Regions from separate parts of the Homo sapiens genome. Here all the other regions are reported to be linked to region 2. Evidence: microRNA targets listed by miRTarBase, many of them from high-throughput screens and not tested one by one. Region 2 holds a microRNA gene; each other region holds the end of a gene's coding sequence.

Region 1 (4,068 bases), not on the chromosome of region 2:
AAAGCAATGACTTTAAAAAGATTACATCCTAAATACTTGATTACAACAGAAATCGACCAATCTAAAAATCAGATAGTGTTATACTGAACATCATTCTGATATAATGAGTAGCCTCTGGCTGAAACAAAATTCCACCACCAAGGCCATCAACCAGGTTAGTACTGTTTTTCCTGGGGTCTATGTAAAACTCTCCTTTTCTCTGCAAATGCTGCTTGGCTGTGAACAGCATGGATTTACCTGCACCAATGTGGCACACACCTAGCAACTTTCTCAAGCATTCTAAAGATATCCCCAGAGCTAACAAATATTGACATATGTCACAGCACCTTTCTCAAGAACAGTCCAAATCAGCAGTGCACATTCACACACACAGGAATGCTGGGGATATGCTTATACCTGCACCACTTAGTTACAACAAGGGGAAATAAGAGTAACTAATGAACTTAATAGCTTCACAAGAAAAATGTTTTATAGTCATATACTTGACCCTATCAGGGAAAAGCCACCTAAAAGCATGTGTAGCTGGTTACAAAGTGCATCAAGGGAGAGAATGGCTGGCTCTGAATAAACCCACAGTCACTTCTGAACATAAAGTACACATTCTAATGACAGAGATTTGGTAATATTATTTTCACAAACCAAACAGTACAAATTTCAAGTTATTTCACAAATCAGATGATCAAATAAAAATGGACATGAATATGCTTAGTAAATTAGCATATACATTTTTTTTAAAGGTGCTATTGTAAAATAACCTACATGACAAAATTTGGCAAAGAGTAAACAAAATCATTAACAATAAACCAAAAAACATGTAAAACTTAAGAAAACTCCCAAAGAATTAAAAAAGAACACATATTTCATAGGATTCAGAAATTATATATCATTTTTAAGTGTGCATTAAGCAACTTTATACTGCACTTTAACAGTCTGAGAAATTTGACATTTCATTTCTATAAATATACATGAGTGGAGACATTTTATAAGTACATATGACTGACAGCAATATTTGGACAACATAAAAGTATCCTGTAGATATGTGTTGCTGCCATAAATCTGGGATGCAGGATTAAAAATGGAGTAAATAAGGCATGACAATGCTTTGCACGATTTATTGTGAGTGCAACTTAAAAACCCAGCAACCAAATTTACCCATCAAGTAGCAGGACTATAAGGGACTATTGTTTACTTGGATGCTGGAAATGCTGAAGAAAAGAAAAACCACAGCCACAGATTGGTATTTTAGAAACAGTCAATCCATACTATTTTAAGAAAAAAATGGATGATTTATTATATAAAATTAAGATTGGCAGAATACAGAAAATTATTTCTTTTACCTTTACATATTTATTGTTAAGTACCAAGCAAAGTGTAACAATTAGAAGAACTCATTACAAACTACCAAAATGTATTCATTTGGTGAAATTATTCAAGTCACAAATGCTTAGTAAATAAATGTACTTCAAAATACGTGAAGTGTAAAACAAGTATGAAAACAGTGATCTTAAACAATGATTCCTTTCACAAAAACTAACCAACAAACAAGAAGCACAAGAAAAAGGTTGTCAGGTTAGACAGAAAAAAATAAATCAAATGTATTGTTGGTTGGGATTGTTAAACTAAAATCATTAAACGAAAACCAGCAACTAGATTCAAAAGAGAGAAAAAAAACCGAAATGAGTAATTAGGATTCAAAAAGAATAAGGGTATTACAATACTATATCTGTTTTCCTACTAATAGCAAGAAATGAGGATTTAGATGCCAATTATGTCCTGTAGACCCAGGTGCTCTCAAAGTATTTGCACTGGTCTTCTAGGTATGGACATATAAATGAACTTTACTGTTACTCAAAGGTGAGAAAACTTACCCATTATAAAGGAAAGGAAAACAATTATACCTGATAGAGCAAAAAGATCACACATTAAAATGATCAAATTCATCTCTAGCATAAGACTAGAATAATCTGCTTCCAAAGAATTCCTTTGTACTTTAGTAGATGAGGGCAAAGCTTTCACCGTAATGAAAAGGCAAATGGGAGGTCTCTGATAAGTTGGAATCATCATAGCAAAAAAAGAGATACCTACCAGAAAATTTGCATTAATATCTATAACCTCATTTGTAAAAAAAAATCATTAAGTTTATAAACTATTTTAAAAATAAAACGAATACATATGTAATATGAATCATATGCCAAATTATATTCTATAGTCATAAGTGCTATTAATAAATACATTTGATTCATGCTACAAGAGAAAGAATTGAGACAATTTCACATTTCAGAATTCCTGAGTCTTATCAGAGAAAAACAAGTACTGAAAAAACAAACACAATAAACCTACTTAAAGTAGGGCAAATAACAAAATTTGGGCATATTTATAGTTTTAAAGCTGAAGACTATGGGAACAATATATATGTACTTCATGAAATTATAAACATGTTTTTAAAGCTTGGTTTTTAAAAAAGGCGTTTTGATCAAACAAGGCCACCTGAGTGACATCTTCAATGATGGTAAGCCCACCATTTTAAAGGAATAACATCTTTATTTAAAAGCCTAATTATTAATATAAAAAGGAAAAGAGTTTATTTTAACAAAATGTTTTAGTAAGATTGCAATGGGACAGCCCTTTGATGAAAAATCTAAGGAGGGTAAAGCCAATGTAACTGAATTAGAACAAGAGTTCCAATTTTGAGCTACCATCCACCAAATAATTTCCCTTTTGCTTTGCATATTACACAGTGAAAATAAACAGTTATATTAAGAGCACTTCAGTCCCACAAGGTAGGATTTAAGCTTTGTGAATAGGTGTAAATGGCCCTGTAACAATATGATGCCTGCAAAAATACATTCAACTGAAAATTAATGTCTGTTCTTTAACTAGTAAGGAAACGGGAAGCTAAGTGGTCCCACTTAAACAATAAAACAAAACAAAACAAAAACCACTGTTTATCCTTTCTGGAAAGACTACCAAAGCAAAGAACATCCAATAATATTATAAATTTAAAACTGCATACTTTTACTCATCTTTACAAGTAGGAAAGATGCATACAAACTACTCATGGGCTTTATAAATAAAGACACTAAGCAGAAATAATATTTGGGTTATTTCTCTGTTCGTAAATACACAGAAATAAAACAATTAAAAAACACTAAAGTGCAGACCTATAGGCCAATACAGGCATGATAAAGAGGTGCAGCCAAATTTGCATCTACATTTACACTTACATACCCAGAAAATGATTCTTGCTTTAAAAAAAAAAAATTGTGCAATTTAAAAACTAGTCAGTTTTGTTTGTGCTGTAATACAATTAGAACTTGTCTCTGCCCACTAGTGAAGTGACTGCTAGACCTTAGATAGCACACTAGGCTCTTGACAATCACGTATCTCATTAGAATCATACAACATTGATTCCACCTCCAGAAAATGTTAGGGTCCTCTTGTTGTAGAATGAAGAGCCACTGGTATTTGGTTGATTGCCTTTAACCAGAGAAGATTTCAGTTCCATTTCACAAGCTACAATAGCTGCATTCAATTCCACTTGAGCTCGATGAACTACATAAAACATGAGGCCTATACTTATAATAATCTGTGAATAAAAATAAAACATTACAGTTATCAATATTTTATACAAAAAAAAGAAATAAATCCAATAAATATTTGGCTTAGAAATGCTTCAAACAGGGTGCTTCTCAAAGATGGTAGGTAAAGGGTTATACATTTTTAAATAGTTTACACACAGTTATTGTTTATTCTTTCCTTTGCTGCTTCTCCTGGTAGTGGAGGACCAAAGTCTACAGGTAACCATGACATGGTATTAGGAAAACACACATTCCTTTTGGTTCACTTGATACAAGCCAAACCTGTCTCTTTGTACCAAAAAGCTTTCTTCAAGGAATAAAAAATGTCTACAATAGAGGTAACAGCTGGCTAAACTTTGTTGGTATAATTAATGTAGTATTATACCTTTGCATGACTATAAATGTCCATAGGTATTTCTAAGCCCACTTAGTGAGAAGCACTACTATTTGCAATGAACTACCTGGTGAAGACAAAATTAAAAGTATTACA
Region 2 (4,068 bases):
AAAATACATACATATTATAAATTCCTTGCTACGACGTGGAGCTGCACAAAAAGACTTACTGGATATCCTAATTAATACAAAAAGATCTCTTTAAAGTGCATAACTTTAAAGGCACTGATTTCATGAAATTCCAAAGTCTTCCAGTTAAGCATTTACCTAGTTATAATTAGTTCCAAAATTCAAAACCAATACTTTGTATAAGGGTATAATTTATAAAGTGGTAGGCACACTGTGGGCAAAGACATATTTCACTCCTAAAATTTTGGCATGATCATCCCTTGGATTTGAGAACAAGCAAAGATAAAATTATATAAATATTTTCTATAGATGATTTTCCTTAATGTCTGTGGAGCCAAAGAAATACTCCAAGATGTCAGAGACTGATATCAAGAGTTTTCCAGGAGGAAACTGAAACAGGCAGTTGCAGCCACTATATCCATCGAAGACAACAGCTGCACAGAATCCTTGGAATCAATTGATTTACATCTATGTGTCTAATGTGCCCCAAGAGAGTCACTGTGTCTTCAAATCACAAATTACTTCAGTGCTGTGGATATGGGAGAAGCACAAGGTAATCATCAAGCCTTACAGTGAATTCAGTACTCCTGCCAAAAGCAACCAGAAGCATTTTGCCCTTCTGACTGGTAGAAAACTTGACTGCTCCTATGTAGAGCTCAGCATCTGAGACAACTCCTCTTCAAAGCATTGTTCCATGTGCTCTCACTATAACACATTAGCTAGGCAGGTAATGTTTTCCTTTCAGTTGAGACTTGTAGATTTTTACTCCTTTAAGAGGCCACACAAATGGTAAGTGACTGAGTAAAGACTCCACAAAGATCTCCTAACTCTTCATCCTGTGGTCTTTACACTGAACTGCACTGCCTCTAGATAAACTTATCTTTTATCATATTAGAATTTAATGGTTACAACAGTACCGTTTCCCATTATTAAAAGTAAAACTGCATAAGGGTTTCTTGTGATTTTAATTCACCAAAAAGAGCAGTGCTTGTGCATACAGAAAGAAATACACCATGAGATATTTGTAAATATTAGAGCTGGGACAAACCTTAGGAGATGAACTAATGCTGCTTTAACTCTTCTCCCCCACCTCTATCAAAGTAGTTGATGTGTAAACAAGCTTCTGGCATGAAAACCCTCCCATATATAGCTACTGCTATCAAGTGTTTATTGAGCTACTATAGATATCAGTGCCTGCCTATGTCCCTTTTTCCCTGAACGATTTTTGCATATGCTGGCCCATCTTCCAACTGTATCACCTACATCACTTTCCTTAAGGGCTTGTTCTGGTCACTGGATCCTTCTCTGCTCATATACATGGAAGGTTGTAGTGCCAGAGAATTAAGAATTGATGACTGATAGGAGTTGGTAGATTAATACCTCAGTTTCTTCTGTCTTCTAGGGAGATACCTCTGAGGTCTATCTTCCACATTGGTTCTCAGAGTTCCCCAGTAAGATTAAGCTCCAATTACTCACAATGCAAATGTGTGTGGTAATCCACTCCTTGTTGGCTTTCTTCTCTTTCTTGTCTGACTTCTCCATCTACTACCAGTATTTCCTGGGGTGACCTCTGTCTTATATTGGGCTGCTATGACAAATTACCATAGACTGCATGACTTATAAACAACAGAAATTTACTTCTCAAAGTTCTGGATACTGAGAGTCTGCGATCAGGATGCCAGCATTGTGAGGGCTCCCTTCCAAGTTGCAGAGTGTCAACTTCTCATTGTGTCCTCACATGACAGAAAGAGTTAGAGAGCCCTCTAAGTTGTCTTTTGTAAGGGCACTAATCCCATTCATGAAGACTCTACCCTCATCACCTAAATTACCTCCCAAAGTTCCTACCTTCTAATACCATCACATTGGGGATTAAGATTTCAACATATCAGTTTTTTGAAAGGGACACATCAGTCTATAACAACCTCTCAAACTACTTGCACCCAAATCCTTGTCTTGGAGTCTGCTCCTGGGGACCCAACCAAAGATATTAAGTGTTTTACTATGCATCATGTTAGAAGCTTAGTGCATTTCTGTTTTATGTTAATTAATCCTCAGGATAATCCTGCAAGCTATTTTTAATACCCATTTTAAAGATGAGAAACATGGAACTTACAGACATTATAATTTGCCTATGATTGCCCAAATAGGAGTAGAAGAGCCAAGATTCAAAAACAGGTTTATCTGACTCCAGATCTTATTTTAAACACTGAGAATCATAAGTTCTTTTTCAGTGCTGCCCCACAGGTTTATATACAAAATAAAAAATATATTGGATCACTTCGTAATCAGTGGAATTCAATGACCAATTGAAACCAATTAAGTCATATGCCCATCAACTCCAAGGGAATACTATATTCAATGAAAAACCTTAAGTGAGATGCTGTAATAAAAGCTATCACTGATTTCTGCTACCTAGTCCATGTACTGAGCACAACACTGATGATGGGATAATTGTCTGGTCTTGTTTAGGCCATCATCCTGTTATGTTTGCCCATGGACTTAGCATAATGGGATGATGGCCTAAACAAGATCAGACAATAGTGACTATTGGAAATAATTCTAAGGGTTTTCAACCAAGATGGATGGAAGAAATACGATAATTATATCCATCTTTTTATATTTCCCAAAGGAGTAGATGCATTGAAAACATTATTTAAACATATTAGTAACTGCTAAATGGTAAATTTGAGGTTAGGAAAAGTCATCGCTTGAGAAGACTACTGAAAGATCATTTTACAACTGCTTTAACCAGATTAAGCCCTTCTCCTTAGCAGTATTTACCTATAGGGGGTGTGTAATGGCAAACCAGCTCTCTAGGAGGAAGTCAGGGAGGAAACAGAACCTGATTGGTAGTGTTTGCCAATTTCTGTTGTGTAAATATTCCCACCATGGCCAAGTTCAAGCTACCAACATGATGTCATTGAATAATTTGAATGACATTGTATATAGTTGGAAGCACACAATCTGCCCTCACAAGCCAGTATGGGTCAGCTCTAGCACACCACTGTTCCCACAGGATGATGAGAGCAACAACCTAATGGCTTAAGTGCATCTCCTTTAGGTTCTAGGGAAGATAAGAGATGAGAAAAGCAGCAAACAAACAAAAAAGCAGGCAAATCTGCTCTAGGCAAGATCTGCTTTATTCTGAGAGGTAACGACTGTTCTCTCCTAGCATGGATCAGAGACAGGAGGAATTGTGCAACATAGAACTTAAGGAGGCTGGGCCCGGTGGCTCACGCCTGTAATCCCAGCACTTTGGGAGGCCAGGCAGGCGGATCACGAGGTTAGAAGTTCGAGACCATCCTAGCTAACATGGTGAAACCCAGTCTCTACTAAAAATATAAAAAATTAGAAGCCGGGAGGCGGAGGTTGCAGTGAGCCAAGATTGCGCCACTGCACTCCAGCCTGGGCGACAGAGCGAGACTCGGTCTCAAAAAAAAAAAACAAAAAAAAACAAAAACAAACAAACAAAAAAAAAAAAACAAAGAACTTAAGGATAGACAGAACAGTGTTTTTAAATTTCAGCTGCATATTACAATCCCCTAAGAATTTTCAAAAAGTCCTGATGTCCAGTCCTCACTCAAGGCCAATTAAATCAGAATCTCTGGAAGTGGTACTTAGGCATCAGTTGATATCAATGTGCAGCCAGCAGTGAGAATGAATGCTCCATAAAAACACTTCTCAAATTTGAATGTGCACATATTCAAATGTGTGATTTGTGGGTGATTTGTGAAAATTCAGACTCTGAAAATATTAAGTAAAAAATAGTGGTATTTTGTAAGTTCAAGAACATGAAAAGCTAATAAGCTAATTAACGATAGTAGAAGTAAAACCAGTGGTTGCCTCTGGGAGAGTATTGACTGAAAAGAAGAAGGAAAACCTCTTTGGTGCTGGAAATGTTCTACATTTGATGTGGGAAAAGGTAACAAAATTGACACAATAAGTAGTACACTTTAGGTTAGTACACTTTACAAATTAAGTTGTACAGATTTTTTTTTTTTTTTTGAGACAGAGTTTGGCTCTTGTCACACAGGCTGCAGGGCAATGGCA
Region 3 (4,068 bases), not on the chromosome of region 2:
TTCTTACTCCTGGTTCTGCCATGCTCCCCACCCCCAGTAAACACACGCACGGGACAAACAAGGCAGCCCACCCAATCCTCAGGGCAACTCTGCCAGCAGCTCTCATTCATGCCCAGATGGGGACACTGGGGGGCTCTTCGGGGAGTTAAGTGACTTGCCCAGGATCCAAAGGCCAGAAAGCTCTGCCCCCAGGTCTTCTGAAATTCAGGCCAGGATTATTTTATCTGTCCTTGCCCCGCTCATTCATCCACTGGGATACAGAACAGGGGGCCAACCCAGTCTGCTTTAATTTCACAGGCAAGCACTTCAGCCTGTCTCCCCGGGGGCTAATGGACCTGAGCCCAAGCCAGGTGCAGTTCTGAGTCCCCTGGTCCCCAGCATAGCCTACTGCAGGTAGAAATGATCAGGCCTGTGCAGCTGCAGGTCAGACAGGGCTGGCAAGGATGGGGACAGCTTGGGAAGACTCCTGGCGGAGGCCTTGGCTAAAGGATTGCTCTGGGATGCAGGTGGACAGAGGTGCTCTGCAATGGAGAGCTAAGTCCTTGCGCAGCTCAGCTGCCAGCTCTCTCTTTCTTGGTCCCAGCCCATGTGGTGGAGCCTGGAATAGACAGCCTCTACTGGTCTCTTAAGAACCCAGCCCCATCCTCTGTCCAAGGGCTATATCTGCTCCTGACGGCTTCTTCCCACCAATGTTCAATCTTAAAAAGCCACCTCTCTGGCTGGGTGTGGTGGCTTATGCCTGTAACCTCAACACTTTGGGAGGCTGAGGTGAGTGGATCACTTGAGGTCAGGAAGTCAAGACCAGCCTGGCCAACGTGGTGAAACCCCCATCTCTACTAAAAATACAAAAATTAGCTAGACATGGTGGTGGGCACCTGTAATCCCAGCTACTTAGAGGGCTGAGGCAGGAGAATTGCTTGAACCTGGAAGGTGGAGGTTGCAGTGAGCCAAGAACACACCACTGCACTCCATCCTGGGCAACAGAGCGAGACTGTCTCAAAAAAAAAAAAAGGCCAGTCGTGGTGGCTTACTCCTGTAATCCCAACACTTTGGGAGGCCAAGGCAGGTGGATCACTTGAGGCCAGGAGTTTGAGACCAGCCTGGCCAACATGGAGAAACCCTGTCTCTATTAAAAATACAAAAATTAGCCAGGTATGGTGGCACGTGCCTGTAATCCCAGGTACTTGGGAGGCTGAGGCAGGAAAATCACTTGAACCCGGGAGACGAAGGCTGCAATGAGCCGAGATCGTGCCACTGCACTCCAACCTGGCAACAGAGTGAGACTCTCTCCAAAAAAAAAAAAAAAAAAAAAAGCCAAATCTCCACCCTGAGCCTTACTCTTTTTGGTCACAAAGTAATCAGGAGTCCTCTGCTCCAGCTTTCTCCGCGGCCTCACCTTCCATTCCCTCCTGTGATAAAGCTTCGGGCTGCCTCCACCATGACTCAGAAAGACCCCTGACTGGTAAGCTCCTTTTAACTGAGTCCAACAGACACTCCTCGGTCTTGACTACCCGCTCCATTATAGTGGGTGGGTAATCCCCTGGTTTCCAAATCTCCTGGTTTTCCTCCTTCCTCTTTGGCTGTTCCCATTCTGGTTGGTGTCCTTCAGGACATCCCCTGGGGCCACCCCACCCACTCCCCACCTGTCTATTCATCAATCTTTAGATTGAACCCTCATCCTGAACTCAGAACTACAGACCCAACTACCCTCATACTCTCTCCCCGGATGCACTGCAGGAACATCATGCTCAACTTGTCCCAAACAGAGCAAGCATTTCATTTCCCCCCAGGGCCCCATCCCAGCAAGCAGTCCCACCCACCATCCAACTGGCAAAGGCAGAAACTTGGGGCCCTCTCTCAGCCATTCCTCACCCAGTGTCACCAGGCCTGTTACTCTTCCACCCACACAGCTCTTTGGTGGTCATCCCCTTCCCTCCATCTCTGCTGCTACTGCCCCAGCCTGGGGCCACCATTTCCCCCACCCCCATCCTCATCAACCTCCCAGTCTTGGCCAGGTGCGGTGGCACATGCCTGTAATCCCAGCACTTTGGGAGACCAAGGTGGGTGGATCACCTGAGGTCAGGAGTTTGAGACCAGCCTGACCAACATGGAGAAACCCCATCTCTACTAAAAATACAAAATTAGCTGGGCATGGTGGTGGGCGCCTGTAATCCCAGCTACTTGGGAGGCTGAAACAGGAGAATTGCTTGAACCCAGGAGGTGGAGGTTGCAGTGAGCCAAAAACGTGCCATTACACTACAGCCTGGGAAATAAGAGTGAAGCTCCATCTGAAAAAAAATTAAAATTAAAAAAAAAAAAAAAACAACCACCTCCCAGTCTTAACTCCCGAAACTCTTCAAAGGCTTCCTACTGGCCTCATTGAAAAACCCACAAGCCTTCCTCAAGCCCTTGCCTGAGACTGTGCCCCGAACACTGCCCTTCTCTCGATAGCCCACCCCTATGCCTACTCACACTCATCTCCTCCAGGAAGCCTACCCCCTGTCCCCTGCCCAGGTTAGGCCCCTTCCTCCATCCTCCACAACTTCTCTTTTTTTTTCTTTCTTTTTTTTTTTTTTTTTTTGAGACAGGGTCTCACTCTGTCACCCAGGCTGGAGTGCAGTAGCTCAGTGACATCTCACTGCAGCCTCAACCTTCCATGCTCCAGGGATCCTCCCACCTCAGCCTCCTAAGTGGCTGGGACTACCCAGGCTGGTCTCAAACTCCTGAGCTCAAGCAATCCTCCTATCTCTGTCTCCCAAATTGTTGGGATTACAGGTGTAAGCCACTACTACTTGTATTTCTCACATCAAAATCCGTGTTATACTTTATTATCATTGCTTAACATTCGGGGTCCCACGCTGAGTGTGAGCTGGGGGCAGGCAAGATTGATTCCTGTTTTACTTCACTGCAGTATCTGCAGCACCCAGGATGAAGTCCAGGACACCAAAGATCAAGGTGCTTCATGAGTGAAACTGTAAGGGCTGGCTGTAAGCCCCGCTTCTGGGATGGGAGAAGGTGAGGCTGATCTCCAAAGCAGGTCCCCCCCACCCCACACTCTATCAAAGTACCTGAGGCAGAATCCCCAATGATGCACCCCCAGTGGTCTGGCTCCTGGGGAAGGCAATCAACTCTGCCCCAGCAGGTCCAGCAGATAGGCCAAGTGGAGTTTCAGGGTCCCGTGGATGGACAGGGGTTCAGCAATAGCCGCAGAAGGAACCCTAAGGCCATCCAGGTTCTCCAAAAGCTGGCTGCACCCCTGGTCTAGGCCAGGCCGCCATTGGGATCGGTCAGGCCCAGCAAGTCCTCTGCCAGGCTGGTGAGCTCGTTCTCCTCGAGTGCCTCCACCAGGCGCTGCAGCGTGGCGCGGCGGCCCTCGGCCTGCACGAAGCGCCGCAGCAGCTGGAAGGCCTGCTCGTACAGTCCCTCGCGCTCGTACTCGTAGGCCAGCGAGTCCAGCGCCGGGTCCCGCAGCGCCCGGCAGCCTCGCTGCAGTGAGCGCCCCACCTTGCGCCATTTGAGACCCACAGAGCGCGCGAACGTCTGTTGGTCCTTCAGGCTCAGCGGCCGATTCACTGCAGAGGGAGTGGGGAAACGGGGTGAGGGCGGGGACCCCCAGCGCCGGTCCCACCCATCCCCACCCGGCAACGACCCCTGCCCCTCCCCAGACTCCAACCTCCTGGTGACCCCGCCTCTCCACCTGCGCCTCACCTACAGGCTGACCCTGGAACAGAAAAGTCTGGGCAGGTGGCGGCGGCGGCGGCGGCTTCACCTCCGACAGAGAGGGCACCGGGGGCTGCAAGGGGGCCGAAGCGACCTCCCCGTCGCCACCCCGGGCCCCCGAGCCGCACTTCAGATTTCGCAGCGCATCCTCCAGCTCAGCCAGTTCTTCATCCCGGAGCCGGTCGGGCTAGGGGAATGGAACGTGCCGTCACGGGGGACTTAACCGCGGATCCCCGCCCTACCCCATCCTGACCCTAGCCCGGCCGCACCTGCTGGGCTAGGATGCAACTCAAACAGCGCTCCTCGTCCGCCAGCAAAGCGTCCAGCCGCTCGGCGCCGGCGCGCAGC

Evidence for each region. Region 2 holds the annotated microRNA hsa-miR-5704 (UUAGGCCAUCAUCCCAUUAUGC, at 2,521-2,542, opposite strand). A microRNA usually pairs through its seed, bases 2 to 8, with sites in the 3' UTR of a target mRNA and lowers its output. Matches are read on the target gene's strand: a 7mer-m8 pairs with bases 2 to 8, a 7mer-A1 pairs with bases 2 to 7 and ends in A, and an 8mer does both.
Region 1: miRTarBase lists TMEM64 as a target of hsa-miR-5704. Seed matches in the 3' UTR shown: 7mer-m8 at 3,165-3,171.
Region 3: miRTarBase lists TRADD as a target of hsa-miR-5704. Seed matches in the 3' UTR shown: 7mer-m8 at 3,153-3,159.

The regions. Positions count from the first base shown.
Region 1 is chr8:90,622,277-90,626,344 of GRCh38, forward strand. It overlaps TMEM64 (transmembrane protein 64), which reads right to left. Exons shown (of 3, transcript NM_001008495.4): 3 at 1-3,586. The coding sequence ends at 3,395. Among named protein-coding and RNA genes, the nearest start is that of LINC01030, 18 kb to the left of the region's middle.
Region 2 is chr3:131,983,381-131,987,448 of GRCh38, forward strand. It overlaps MIR5704 (microRNA 5704), which reads right to left and starts at 2,551; the gene lies at 2,475-2,551. The region is part of intron 1 of CPNE4 (copine 4); the gene reads right to left.
Region 3 is chr16:67,151,388-67,155,455 of GRCh38, forward strand. It overlaps TRADD (TNFRSF1A associated via death domain), which reads right to left. Exons shown (of 5, transcript NM_003789.4): 3 at 3,990-4,068; 4 at 3,709-3,907; 5 at 2,798-3,572. The coding sequence ends at 3,262. Among named protein-coding and RNA genes, the nearest start is that of B3GNT9, 2.4 kb to the left of the region's middle. RefSeq lists a silencer at 4,063-4,068.